Linked DNA regions of Homo sapiens. The protein of the gene in region 1 purifies or fractionates together with the protein of each later gene. This does not show direct contact. Each region holds a gene or a part of one and is shown in the gene's direction. Other genes may lie near its edges.

What was found. The genes of interacting proteins can lie anywhere in the genome.
Region 2: the proteins of ANKRD18A (region 1) and NEMF purify together in Homo sapiens (affinity purification with mass spectrometry; one large-scale study listed by BioGRID and IntAct). This does not show direct contact.

Annotation. Positions count from the first base shown.
Region 1 is NC_000009.12:38,614,006-38,617,818, reverse strand, and holds part of ANKRD18A (ankyrin repeat domain-containing protein 18A), read left to right. Parts: intron 1-1,774; coding exon 1,775-1,889; intron 1,890-2,051; coding exon 2,052-2,225; intron 2,226-3,813.
Region 2 is NC_000014.9:49,832,133-49,835,945, reverse strand, and holds part of NEMF (ribosome quality control complex subunit NEMF), read left to right. Parts: intron 1-1,496; coding exon 1,497-1,583; intron 1,584-2,449; coding exon 2,450-2,523; intron 2,524-3,668; coding exon 3,669-3,739; intron 3,740-3,813. UniProt on the Homo sapiens protein: Key component of the ribosome quality control complex (RQC), a ribosome-associated complex that mediates the extraction of incompletely synthesized nascent chains from stalled ribosomes as well as their ubiquitin-mediated proteasomal degradation.

The DNA of each region.
Region 1 (3,813 bases):
CTCGAATATGTTATGTAGCAAACATTTTGCACTATCTCTCAGGACCCTTCCATACTTAAAAACTTTATGTTTACCTGTTCTGCCTGAGCAAGATGAGAGATTTAAAATAGGAATAGTAGAACTTAATCTCACTGAAGCTTTTCCTCCCACCTTTCAAGCAAAAGCCTTTCTGAAGGTAGAAAACAATAAGAGATAACCTTTAACTGCCCTTTTGAAAATTTATCAGTCTTAAATACTAATATTAATCATTGGAAAGTCTGATTTGCATATATTCTGTAAATCTAAGTGTTGACTAAAATGAGCCATACCTGTTCATCTCAATCATGAGTTTCCTTTAGCTTCACGTTTCTTTTTGTTTGTTTGTTTGTTTTTTCGTTTTGCGACAGAGTCTCACTCTGTCGCCTATGCTGGAGTGCAGTGGCGTGATCTCAGCTCACTGCAACCTCTGCTGCCAAGGTTCAAGTGATTATCCTGCCTCAGCCTCCCGAGTAGCTGGGATTACAGGTGCCTGCCACCGCACCCAGCTAATTTTTGTAGTTTTAGTAGAGACAGAGTTTCACTATGTTGGCCAGGCTGGTCCTGAACTCCTGACCTAGAGATCCACCTGCCTCGGCCTCCCAAAGTGCTGGGATCACAGGCGTGAGCCACTGGGCCCGGCCAGCTTCCCATTTTTAAAAATCAAAGTAAGAAGTAATTTGTTTAAAAAATATGTTGTTATTTCAGTGCTCTTTCCCCATGGTACTTTGAGGAATTAAAATGTATTTAAGTGTCAATTAGATTCCTAGAATTGCCCTAGACCTGCTGTGTATACAGTATTCTACTTAATGTAAGACCTCATGGATTGTGTGATACCCTACTATTTTCTATATTAATAAGATGATTTTTAAATGCTACCAATTATAAATGCTACCATATAAAAATTATGAATTATAAATACCACTCCAATATCAGATATGCTAAAATGTGACCTAATCTTTAAATCATCCTGCAAAATAGCAATAATTGTATCATTTTACTTAATTAAAATATTTTTGTTAAATACTAGTAATATAATTATAACATCTGGCTGAGTGCATGGCTCACACCTGTCATTCCAGAACTTTGGAAGGCTGAGGTGGGAAGTTCCCATGATGCTAGGAGTTTGAGACCAGCCTGGGCAACAAGGTGACATTCCTACTCTACAAAAAAAAATTTAAAAATTAGCTGATCATGCTGGTGCACTCCTGTGGTCCCAGCTATTCAGGAGGCTGGGGCAGGAGGTTTGCTTGAGCCTACAAGTGCCAGGCTGCAGTGAGGTATAAATACACCATTGCACTCCAGCCTGGGCAACAGAGCAAGACCGTGTCTCAACAAACAAAAGTCTAACAGTTATTGAGTTGTTGCTTGTTCTGGAAACAGTTCTAAATGCTTTACATAGATTTTCATTTAAGCATCACAGTGGTGTCCTGTGAGCTAGCTGCTGTGGTCATCTTTATTAATGAGGAAATTCAGGCACAGAAAGGCTAAGCAATAGCTGGTACGTGACCGAGTTCAAAGTAGAACTCAAGCCCTAGTTAAGCTGAATCCAAACACCAAGCTCATTCTATCCAAATAGGCTGCTGTTTCATTAAGGTAGGGAGCAGTAAGAGCTAATAAATATTGTACTTTCTTCAAAAGAAAATTATTTGTTTTGAAGGCAGAGGAATAATGCCATTCAATGTTTACAATGACATGGACCATTGTAGGTTTTGAGATATTGCACTACATTTCCTGAAAACCCCTCTCGCTCTCCTAGGACTGTTCTACATTTGGCCTGTGCCCATGGCCGTGTGCAAGTGGTCACTCTCTTGCTGCACAGAAGATGCCAGATCGACATCTGTGACAGACTAAACAGGACACCTTTAATGAAGGTATATAGTAGCCAACTCTTTCAGCATGAAATGGATTTGATTTAAATACATAGAATTAAAATGAATTTGTCTCATTTAAATATAGCTAGTTGGTGAAACCTGTGGAATATGTATTTTGAATTCTTAGAATTTATAGTCTAGTTTTTTATCTAACACTAATAGGCTGTACACAGCCAGGAAGAGGCTTGTGCCATCGTTCTCCTGGAATGTGGCGCCAATCCAAACATTGAGGATATCTACGGCAACACTGCTCTCCATTATGCCGTGTATAATAAGGGGACTTCACTGGCAGAAAGACTGCTTTCCCACCATGCAAATATTGAAGCACTAAACAAGGTACAGATCAATCAACTTTCTTTTCAAAATGTTTGTTTTAATATTGACATAGTTAAGAGTCAATTTTTCATATTTGGAACTCAAGTATTCCTGAATGAAAATGTCTTGAAATAATTGTCTAAAATTTTACTTTAAATATTGATACTTTTAAAGAAGCATTAGAGGGCACAGCTATTTTAGTGCACGTATGGGAAGTATTTGTGAATTTGTTAAGGTAAAACTTCTTCTTTTCAAGTATTTGTTTCCTACCCCAGGTGTATTTTTTTTCTAATTAGTGTAAAAACAGCACAGGGAAAAAATTACCCTGGAAATAGGCTTTATCTTAAAACTCAAAACTAAAGCAACTTACAATAAATGGAAGTCTTGCTGCTGCTGACGGTTTTCTAACAAAATGGATGTATCTTTCATGGGCAAGGTTTAACAGGGAAAAATAGAAAGGGAAAAGGAGAGCAATCAAAAACATGCAGGTCACTTGGAAATTAGGTAATGAGGGAAAATGCCAAGAAGAGGTTTTGTTTTTTAGTTTGTTGTTTTTCCAGTTTATGTATTGAGACAAAGCGCTCTTCAGCTTTGGGGTAATCATTTTTGGTTTGGTAAAAAGAGTGACCGAAACTTGCCTAAAGATTAATTTTTAGAGGACTCTGAGGAAACCAGATTGGCAGTGAATATACGGTGATGAAGTGAGAAACACTTCAGCAAAGGGTGGAACAAATTAGTAACTGACTTATTACCCATCCCGGCAAAAACAGCAACTTAGATAAGAGTCTAAACTCTCCTTTCAAATCTAGAATATCTTGATGAGAAGGTGGGAGATAAGCAGCTTATAAATAGCAAAATCAACTGGGATTTTGAGTTTACTTGTCCCTGATATACCCACACCCAGGAAAATTAACTGGAATTTTAATACATAACTCTATCTCATACTCCTCTCTGGCCACATCCCAAGCTGATAAAGGATATTGGCCATGTGGGTGAGAGATGAAACTGAAGTGATTGTCTGCTGCAGTAATTCTCAGCTAGAATTGTGCATTACAATGACCTGGGGAAATTTTGTTAAAAGTCTACAAGTGTAGGCTTTCCCCTGAGGATTTTGATGTAATAGATCTAATAAGTTCTGAACATGTATGGTTAAAAATATTTTCTTGAAGCCATGCACTGTGGCATGTTCCTGTAGTCCCAGCTACTCAGGAGGCTGAGGTGGGAGGATTGCTTGAGCCTAGGAGTTTAAGTCCAGCCTGAGGCGGGCAGATCACGAGGTCAGGAGATGGAGACCATCCTGGCTAACATGGTGAAACCCCGTCTCTACTAAAAATACATAGTAAGACTCTTGTCTCTTACCACAACAAGAGCAAAAAAAAAAAAAAAAAAAAAAAACCTCAGTGTTCGAATACACTCCTGATTAAGAAGCACAGAATAGATAAGTGCAGGATATAAATTCCTGTATGTCAAAGACATAAGAAATCTCTAAAAGAGTTGGCATTCGATAGGTGCTACTTTCTTCAAAGTTTTCTTTTCCAATAACATTAAACTGACTTATCTGTCTTTCTCTACATTTGTGACTGGGAAGTGAAAGGGAATATCATTGGCA
Region 2 (3,813 bases), on another chromosome or scaffold:
TTTAATTTCTCTCAGTTAGATTTATTCCTAAACATTCTATTCTTTTTGATGCTATTGTCAGTGGAATTTTCTTAATTTCATTTTTGCATAGAAATACAATTGATTTCTATATATTGGTTTTTGTATCCTGCAAACCTGATAAACTTGTTTATTCATTCTAGTAGGGTTTTTTTGTGGGTTCCTTAGGATTTTTTAAGGTACAGGATCATGTCATCTGTGAATAAGGATGCTTTACTTCTTCCTTTAGAATCTGAATGCTATTAATTAATTTGCCTTATTGTGCTAGCTATAGCTTCCAGTACAATGTTGAATAGCAGTGTGAGACTGAATATTCTTTCCTTGTTCCTGATCTTAGGGGGATAATATTCAGTCCTTCACCAGTAATTATCATGTTAGCTGTAGGTTTTTCATAGGTGTCCTTATAAGGTTGAGAATGCTCCCTCTATTCCTAGTTTATTGAGAGTTTTTATTAGGAATTAGTGTTGAATTTTGTCAAATGCTTTTTCTGCATCTATTGAAATGATATATGGCTCTTTTCCTTTATTTTATCAATATGGAGTATTATATTAACCAATTTTTGGTTGCCAAACCAACCTTGCATTCCAGGGATAAATCCTCATTGTGGTTGAAGCCCATTAAATTCCTATAACTTGCACTGACTTTTGTAAGTTAATTGTAGTTTCAAATTTCTTTAAGGACTAGAATTGTCATTTTTTTTTTTTTTTTTGGTTGCGGGGTGGGGCGGGGGACGGAGTTTCACTCTTGTTGCCCAGGCTGCAGTGCAATGGCACGATCTTGGCTCGCCACAGCCTCCGCCTCCCGGGTTCAAGTGATTCTCCTGCCTCAGCCTCCTGAGTAGCTGGGATTACAGGCATGTGCCACCACGCCTGGCTAATTTATTGTATTCTTAGTAGAGATGGGGTTTCTCCATGTTGGTCAGGCTGGTCTCCAACTCCCGACCTCAGGTGATCTGCCTGCCTTGGCCTCCCAAAGTGCCGGGATTATAGGCATGAGCCACCGCACCCAGTCTAAGAACTAGAATTGTCATTTCTAAGTAACACTTCAAAATAAGTAAACTTATTGTTTTCACCAGCCACTGTTATTGAGTAGATCATTGATATTGGGAAATAAATTTGTGCTATATTTTGAATGTTAAATTTTAGGCTAGGTCATGGTGGCCCACACCTGTAATCTGAGCACTTTTGGAGGTTGAGGTGAGTGGATCACCTGAGGTTAGGAGTTCGAGACCAGCCTGGACAACATGGTGAAACCTTGTCCCTACTAAAAATACAAAAATTAGCTGGGCATGGTGGTGGGTGCTTGTGATCCCAGCTACTCAGGAGGCTGAGGCAGGAGGTGGGAGGCAGAGGTTGCAGTGAGCCAAGATTGCACCATTGCACTCCGGCCTGGGCGACGGGTAAAACTCCATCTCAAAAAACAAAAACAAAAAAGAATTTATAGGAAAATACTAAAAGTAATATCCTCTGCATTTATAGCCTATGGACCAGCTCTCATTGAACACTGTCTTTTAGAAAATGGATTCTCGGGTAATGTCAAAGTGGATGAAAAACTTGAAACTAAAGGTATGTCTGCATGGTACATTTTTCATTTATTTCATTTTTTTTAAACTATGAAAATTTTTTCTGGGAAAGTAATAAGGGAGCAGGTGGTTCTAGAATGAAAAACATTTGACCAGGCACACTGGCTCATGCCTGCAATCCCAGCACTTTGGGAGGCTAAGGTGGGAGGATCACTTAAGCCTGGGTGTTTGAGGCTGCAGTGGGTGGTGACTGCACAGCTGCACTCCAGCCTGAGCAACAGAGTGAGACCCCCATCTCAAAAAACCCCACAAAAACAAGTATCACCACTCTCAAAAAAAAAAATTGAATGAGATTTTAGTGAATGTTTTAGTTTCTGCAATATACTAAATCAGTGCACTCATAAAATGACAACAGGTGCTGGTGGTGGTGTTTTGTTTTTGTTTGTTTTTATAAAATGACTCTGATGTTTATATGGAGCAAAAGCATGTGAAAATGTTCAGGATAACTCTGGAAAATACTAGTAATGATTTATTACTGTCTGTGTAACCCTTCACAGATTAAAATATGAAGCTATAGTAATTAAAACTGTAAGTTTTTGGAGAAGGAATAGCATAAAGATTCCAAAAATAATTTGAAATAATATGGGAATTTAGTTTATGAACAAAGTTCCTTTCAGGTCATGGAGGGAAAGGTGGATGATTCAATAAAAGCTACTTGGACAACAGGCTGTTCAAAATGAAACCATATATCCACATATACTGGTTATAAACATGAAATCACTATCTCTAATTTTCTTGAACGCAACATTATTTTGTAAGCACTTTCCTGTTTTTCTACATAGTTGTTTAGCCACGGTTAATTGACACTTGATTGGCACTCCTTTTTTCCTTTTTTTCCCCCACCATTAGATATTGAAAAAGTACTTGTTTCTCTGCAGAAAGCAGAAGACTATATGAAAACAACATCCAACTTCAGTGGGAAGGTAGCACCATGTATACTTACTATATATTGTTGTGATTTATTTGGGTTTTCAGAAATTAAACGTTCATTAAAGGATCATTATATATACATTTTATTTTAATTTGGAAAATTGTTATCTGTAATATGCTTATTCCAGGATAGTTTTTTTGTTTTGTTTTTTGAGACAGTCTTGCTCTGTTACCCAGGCTGGAGTGCAGTGGCATGATCTTGGCTCATTGCAACCTCTGCTTCCCTGGTTGAAGTGATTCTCCTGTCTCAGCCTCCCGAGTAGCTGGGACTACAGGCACGTGCCACCATGCCTGGACAGTTTTTATATTTTCAGTAGAGATGAGGTTTCACCGTGTTGGCCAGGCTGGTCTCGAACTCCTGACCTCAAGTGATCCGCCTGCCTTGGCCTCCCAAAGTGCTGGGATTATAGACATGGGCCACTGCACCCGGCCCAGGATAGTGTTTTAAAAGTTTTTGTTGGTTTATAAGTTTTTTTCTGTTCCCTATCTTTTATAGAAAGTACAATGTCAGGTTAGTATCGGCTCTTCAGAAAAGTTGAGGAATTTACAGTTATTTCTTTAGTTTCAGATAGAGAAGCACATTTTCATTTGTCAGCCCTTTTCAAAAATGTTGTGATTTACAGCTCCCAACCATTAAATATTTTTTGAATTACCTAGTAGCTTATGAGTGTTTTTCTTCCCTTTTCAAAGCATAACTATTTATAGAAAATTAAAATTAATATCAGTCATAGAAAGTAAACCTTTGGATTAGGTGCAAATTAATATCAGTCACAGAAACTAAATTTTTAGGTGCAGTGGCTCACACCTGTGATCTCAGCACTTTTGGAGGCCAAGGTGGGCGGATCACTTGAGACCAAGAGTTCGACACCACCCTGGCCATCATGGCAAAACCCCTGTCTCTACTAAAAATACAAAAATTAGCCAGGTATGGTGGCACACACCTGTAATCCCAGCTACTTGGGAGGCTGAGGCATGAGAATTGCTTGAACCCGGGAGGCAGAGGTTGCAGTGAGCCGAGAATATACCACTGCACTCCAGCCTGGGTGATGGAGCGAGCGCGACTGTATCAAAAAAAAAAAAAAGAAGTAAATCTTTGTTAATTATGAATAGGAATGATTTTAATGTTGCATTTTTGTAGGGATATATCATTCAGAAAAGAGAAATAAAACCAAGCTTGGAAGCAGATAAACCAGTTGAAGACATACTGACGTAAGCATATAGGCATGGGTCAATTTGCTTTGGATGTTTGTTAATGTTCTCGAATGTGATATAATAAATATGTT